Regions from separate parts of the Homo sapiens genome. Here region 1 is linked to region 2. The links come from fine-mapping of genetic effects on gene expression. A gene starts in region 2. The other region holds a variant in brackets. All regions are shown on one strand. Distances are from middle to middle.

Region 1 (2,915 bases), 220 kb before region 2:
TGTCCAACCAAGTCACAATATAGTTCTTGCTTAATTCCAGGAGCTGGTGTATTCTGACAGTTGTAGAGTAAAAAGTCACAGCTATAATCCCACACAGGGAGCTACAGGATGATTTTGTGAATCTCTGAGAAAATATAAGAACTGTAAAGCAGTATCTATTTTGTATACCAAGAATAGATTAAGGCAAGCTAACACATGGCACTTCAAAAGAGTAACTTGCTTCTACAACTTAAGAATTATTAGGGCCGTGTGCGGTGGGTCACACGTGTAACCTCAGCACTTTCGGAGGCTAAGGCGGGCGGATCACAAGGTCAGGAGTTCAAGACCAGCCTGGCCAATATGGTAAAACTCCATCTCTAATAAAAACACAAAAAAATTAGCCAGGCATGGTGGCATGTGCCTGTAATCCCAGCTACTCGGGAGGCTGAGGCAGGAGAATCACTTGAACCCAGGAGGCGGAGGTTGCAGTGAGCTGAGATCGCACCACTGCATTCCAGTCTGGGCGACAGAGTGAGACTCTGTCTCAAAAAAAAAAAAAAAAAAAAAAAAATTATTAGAATTTGAGGGGGCACATCTTTAGCCTATGACAATGTTAAGGAGAAAATAATAAGCTAACATTCAGGAAGGTTTTGGTTTACTTTTAGATCACAAGTGACATAATCAATGAAAAGGTGAGAAGCCAAAGGACTGCCATGGAGTCCTTGAAAGGACTTCATCATTAAAAGCAGCACACTGCAGAAAGCAGCATGTTGTTTACAGAGGAAACCGACAAACATCCTTCAATCACCCAAATCTGCCAAATACCTTCTTCCTCTCATTCTCTTTCCTGGTGAAATAAAAGGCATTTCCTAATTAATCCCTAAGTTTACTTTATCAACAAGGGTTTTCTTTCCTTTACTACTATAACAGTAATTAGAGAAAGTCTTCATAATTCATCAGTAACCACTCTCCAAACCAAGGCTATTATCAGCTATTATCAAGCTCTCCCCTCTCATGCATTAAAACTACTCTTCTTGTTTTCATTATGCCCTGTACCTGCATTTCACAAGGACTTTTCACTTCTGTTACTTATACTGAAATTCATGGAGTAGTGCTGCTAAATACAAGTTAAATCCTGCTGTCAAGTGACTTCCAATGAAGTTCTGGAACTAATATAAAGCAGACTGCACTAGATCTATAAAACCGTAGTACCTATTTCCAACTTGCCCAAGGCCATGAAGACACTAAAACTCCAGCCTCAAGGTATGACTTAATGCCACAATATTAGTTTAGAAGAATAGTTGGGAAGTAAGAGAGTAGCCAGAAATGAGTGGAGTTTTGAAGACTGAGGTTTGGCTACTGTGATAATGAGAAAGGACCACTCACTCCAGGTGAAAGCCTAGAAAAGTTCTAGTAGATATATTAAAGGAATAGTGGGCATACAGCAGGGAACAGGAAAAAGAAAGGTAGGAAAATAATACTGCAACCAGACTGAAAAGGGCTTCTTAATACCATGTCTATGATTTATTTGGGTCCACAATGGTGAAAAATGGCTTATTTTCTCTTGGATCTCTATTAATGTAAAAGTTTAAGATTACTAGGATTTTTTGTTGTTTGTTTAGGGACTACAGAAAGTCAGGAAACAAAAATTTAAATTACTACTAT[AT/A]TGTCTGTCCATCCAATCTTTCTGAAAGATCTCATTATCCTTTAAATACGGATAGTGACGTTATTTACTCATATAATTCTAACTACTGCTGAGTATTATACAGATCAAGTGGTAATAACAAGCTCCAGTTTCTTAGAAGGTGATACTTCCTTTACAAGTTAAACATGGCATATGGCAGTAATCCTGGACCTTCAGTGAAGATTTGTTTGTCATAATACTGCTAAGGATACTTCTGGTTTGTTTTTGAGACAAGGTCTCGCTCTATTGCCTAGACTGGAGTGCAGTGGTGCAATGCCAGCTCACTGCAGCCTCGACCTCTCAGGCTCAAGCCATCTTCCCACCTCAGCCTCTCAAGTAGTTGGGATTATAGGCATGCACCATATGACTGCTAATTTTTTTTTTTTTTTTTGGAGAGACAGGGACTTTCTGTGTTGCCCAGGCTGGTCTTGAACTCCTGGGCTCAAACGATCCTCCTGTCTTGTCCTCCCAAAATGTTGAGATTACAGGCATAAGCCACCATGCCCAGCTGCTAAGGATACTTGAGGTGGATAAGGTTTTTGCAGAAGTTGATCTTATAATAGCAGGAATTGGTAGATGAGACAATTCAGCTAGGACTATACACCGCTACCTTCCCCACTAAAACCAGGACAAACAGAAAACAAGCTTATCTCCTGAGAGAGAGAGAGAGAGAGAGAGAGAATTTTAAATAACTCTTTACAACGTAAAAACCATTTTTAGCTCAAAGACTACAAAAACAGGCTATGGGCCTGATTTGACCCACACATTATAGTTTCCTATCTCTGGTACAGACAACAAATTGGAATTAAGTGAGACAACATATGGGACTTTATTAAATAAGGTGAATTTGGGACAAATGAAAGGTGAGATGAAGGCAAACTACTGTCAAGGGATGATCTGAGCCTGAACAACTCAGTGAATGTGAAGAGAAAACAAGATTACATGTGAATATAGATGTTAACTGGAAAAGCAAGGAGAAAAAAAGGGAGCACAAGGAAGAAAAAAAAATCAAAATTTGTGAGCCATCTCAAGCCATCAAAAAAACTTCATTCTATTGTAGGAGGGAAGCTGGAAACAATGGCAGAGTAATTTTGTGTTAAGAATTAAAGTACTAGCTCCAGTTAGGCATATAAATGACAATTAGAAGGGACAGAAGTTATGGTTATGTCAGCAGCCTCCAGTGAGCTAGGATATAAACTAAGTCTTTTCAAGCTGAACAAATATATACACATTCAACCCATTTAAGTGAAGA
Region 2 (2,915 bases):
GTTGAACTGAACAGTTCCCCAAATGGATACAAAAGTACTCAGAGTCCTTAGTATAACAAAGTCCTGAAGGTAGGAATTGGAAGCAATAGAGGGAAGGACGGTGACCACAGAAAATATTCAAGGTCTTTGGGAGGTCAACACCTCTGAACCCCCTGGTGGTGGGGGGCCCTTCTGGCCCATTTGCACCTTTCTTGCTAGTGTAGAAAACCTGAAGTTATCTCAGGCTAGATATATAACCCTCACTCATGTCTGCCGGAGCTCTCCCCCAGAATATGAATCATATTTGTAGGTTTCTTTGACAACCAACCACTCATTGATATGCTTGGAAGACTGCACCCCCACATTCCTTAAAAATACAATGGTACTCCCCCACCATAGGCAAGTCCCCGGACTCTGACACATATCTTCAATTGAAAGCAGACCCAGAAAGGAAAAACTGCATAATACACCATCCTTTAATATTTGCCCAGAATTTCCAATACTAGAAACCCCACTGCAAAGCAGAAAGACTATCTGGTAGCTTCAAGGAACCATTTCAGGAGATTGTTGTGTGGGCCTCAGTATTCAAGGCTGCCTTAGAAGATCGTGCGATCCTCTCACTCTTCTTGCCCCAAGTACCAGAGTTAATAAGCCACTGAACCAACCAGAGGGGAATTATTTTTGGTCCCGGTTTAAAGAAAACAAAACAAGCTGTTGATTCTGCCATGACCTCTTGGGTAATGTTGTCTCTATACCTGTGATAAACAGAAAACAACTAATAAAGGTTTATCCCGCCCTCACCCTCTTAAACCCGCTTCACAGACCTGGCTGAAACTCACATCCAGGCGAGGCGCTCACGTGACCCGTTCTAAACGCGTCATAGGGACACGTGGTTCTAGATACTTCTCCCCCTCCCACTCAGGGGTGGATTGTTGACAAGGCCGCGGGCAGTCACGTGATCTTACATCATCCCACCTCCTTTCCCTGAAATCTCTGGCCCGGATGCGTCCCTCTTTCTCCACCCCGCCGAGCCTAAACTAGTGACGGGGAGGGAGACGGGATAGTGTTTCTGTTTCGTGGTCTTTGAATCCACAACCTCTAGTCTGAACACAGAGAACACAAATTTGTCTATTACTTCAGGAAGCCCAGGGGGAACCGCGCCCCGCTGAAGGGCTCGGGGAAGGCGCGCTCCCGCGTCCCGCCCCCTCCTCCCCCAGCACTCACACTGTGGTAGCGGCGGAGGGCGGAGGGATCCGGAGGCGGCGGAGGGAGACGTCATTGCAGGGTTGTTTGTCAGTCTCGGCGGCGGCGGCGGCGGCGGCGGCGGCGGCGATCCACAGTGATTCGGCCGCCGCGCCGGGGGGTGGGGGGGCTGCGCGGGACTTTTTTTTTTTCAGACTGACCGCGGGGCAGCTGCGGAGCATGTCGACCCCGGCCCGGAGGAGGCTCATGCGGGATTTCAAGCGGTAAGGGCCTTCACCTTCGCCTAGATGACGGCCCCTCAAAGCTGCGGGGCTGCAGGGCGTGGATCCCAGACACCTTCCCCTTTGTGACCCTCAGAGGGCCGGCTGTGGGCCCAGCGGGACTGGCGGAAGCCGGGTCCTAGCCTCGGCCCTACTCCCATAAGCTTTGCCGCTCGTTCTGGCGCCCGAAGAAATTTTGATACTGCTTCCCCTCCCCACAAAAAGTAAAACGGTGTCGATCGACTGGTCTAGGGTTCCCTGCTGCCCATTTCGGCCAGCTGCCCGGCGTCTCGCCCAGGCGATCAGACATTATCCGCCCGCCCCTGCACCCTGCGGCGCCCCCTTCTTGTCCCCTCAAAGTGAGCTCCTGCGGGAGCTTGTTCCTCTCCGGCAGCACCAGTCAGCTTTGTTTCACGGCCCCGCCGTCTTCTCCGAGGAGCCGTGTTGGGGCGAACCCCTCTCCCGACTCCTGCCAATCCTTTCCATTTGTGCCCTGAGGGTGGGGTCCAGTGCGTGAGGCCCGGAGGTTAACCCATCCCCCGAAACCCGACTCTGTCCCCGCCCGCCTGAAAGGACCTTGGGAACTGACTTAGAGATCTGGGACCTTAGAGCTGGCCACCCCGGCTGCCAGTGCTTTCTGGAACTCAGCTCTGGCTGGTGAAGAAAGCCCCTATCTATAGCCTCCCGAGTCTGGAAAAATGCCTTCCCTTAGACTGGCGCTAATCTGATACTCCCTGGGCCTCCTTTGGTAAATAAAATAGGGTTTTGTTAGGAGGTATTGGGGTTGTGAGATAGAAAATGATTATTCCGTTGTTTACCTTTTATTGGATACTTAGAGACATAGAAAAAATAAGTGAGAAAACATCATTTTGATACTCTGCACATTTTTCTTAACATTTTTTCTGGGGACACCTGCCCTAATTGAACAAAATATCTAGCATAAAAACTTAGATTTGTCGCTCAGGAAGTCACCTCTCAGCTATTATAAAGCCTATGTGAGGCACTTGGATTTGGCCAACTTATTTAATTCATTCGTAGCTTCTCTTAGCCATTTAAAGGTAGGCGTCAAGCAGTGCAGTTCTTCTAAGGCTTCTGTTCGTGGTGGCCTAATTTGCTTGAGATTGACTAAAAACCATTTTTTTAATGTGGACTAGTTGCAAATTATGATGCCCCATGAAAAACAACTGCATATGTATTTGTGTGTGTATATAATGTAGCATTTTTAATTGAGGTTACAGTCTCTGAAAGGAGATGCCCTTTTTGGTGCAAAAGTCATCTTTCTAAAGCTTGAAATCAGCGTATTTGATTAGCACTCATGACAAATTCAGATAGTAAACTAGTTCATGTCATTGTCGCCCTGGCTCCTTACTGTAATGCTCTGCTTAATTCTGAGTTGAATGCATGGCACCTTTTGTAGTTTCCAGAGATCTGCAGGTTACAAGAATTTGACTATGACGAATGTTGGAAAGCCTT

What was found. PIP is the estimated chance that this variant, and not a neighbour inherited with it, causes the effect.
Region 1: its variant is fine-mapped to the expression of UBE2B in whole blood (INTERVAL, PIP 0.96).

The regions. Positions count from the first base shown.
Region 1 is chr5:134,153,923-134,156,837 of GRCh38, forward strand. It overlaps SKP1 (S-phase kinase associated protein 1), which reads right to left. Exons shown (of 6, transcript NM_170679.3): 6 at 1-2,915. Among named protein-coding and RNA genes, the nearest start is that of SKP1, 22 kb to the right of the region's middle. The variant AT/A (reference allele first, on the strand shown) is at 1,645.
Region 2 is chr5:134,370,195-134,373,109 of GRCh38, forward strand. UBE2B (ubiquitin conjugating enzyme E2 B) reads left to right here and starts at 1,375. Exons shown (of 6, transcript NM_003337.4): 1 at 1,375-1,445. The coding sequence starts at 1,402. It also overlaps a transcript of CDKL3 not described here. RefSeq lists enhancers at 494-1,089, 598-667, 1,608-1,707 and a silencer at 1,138-1,187.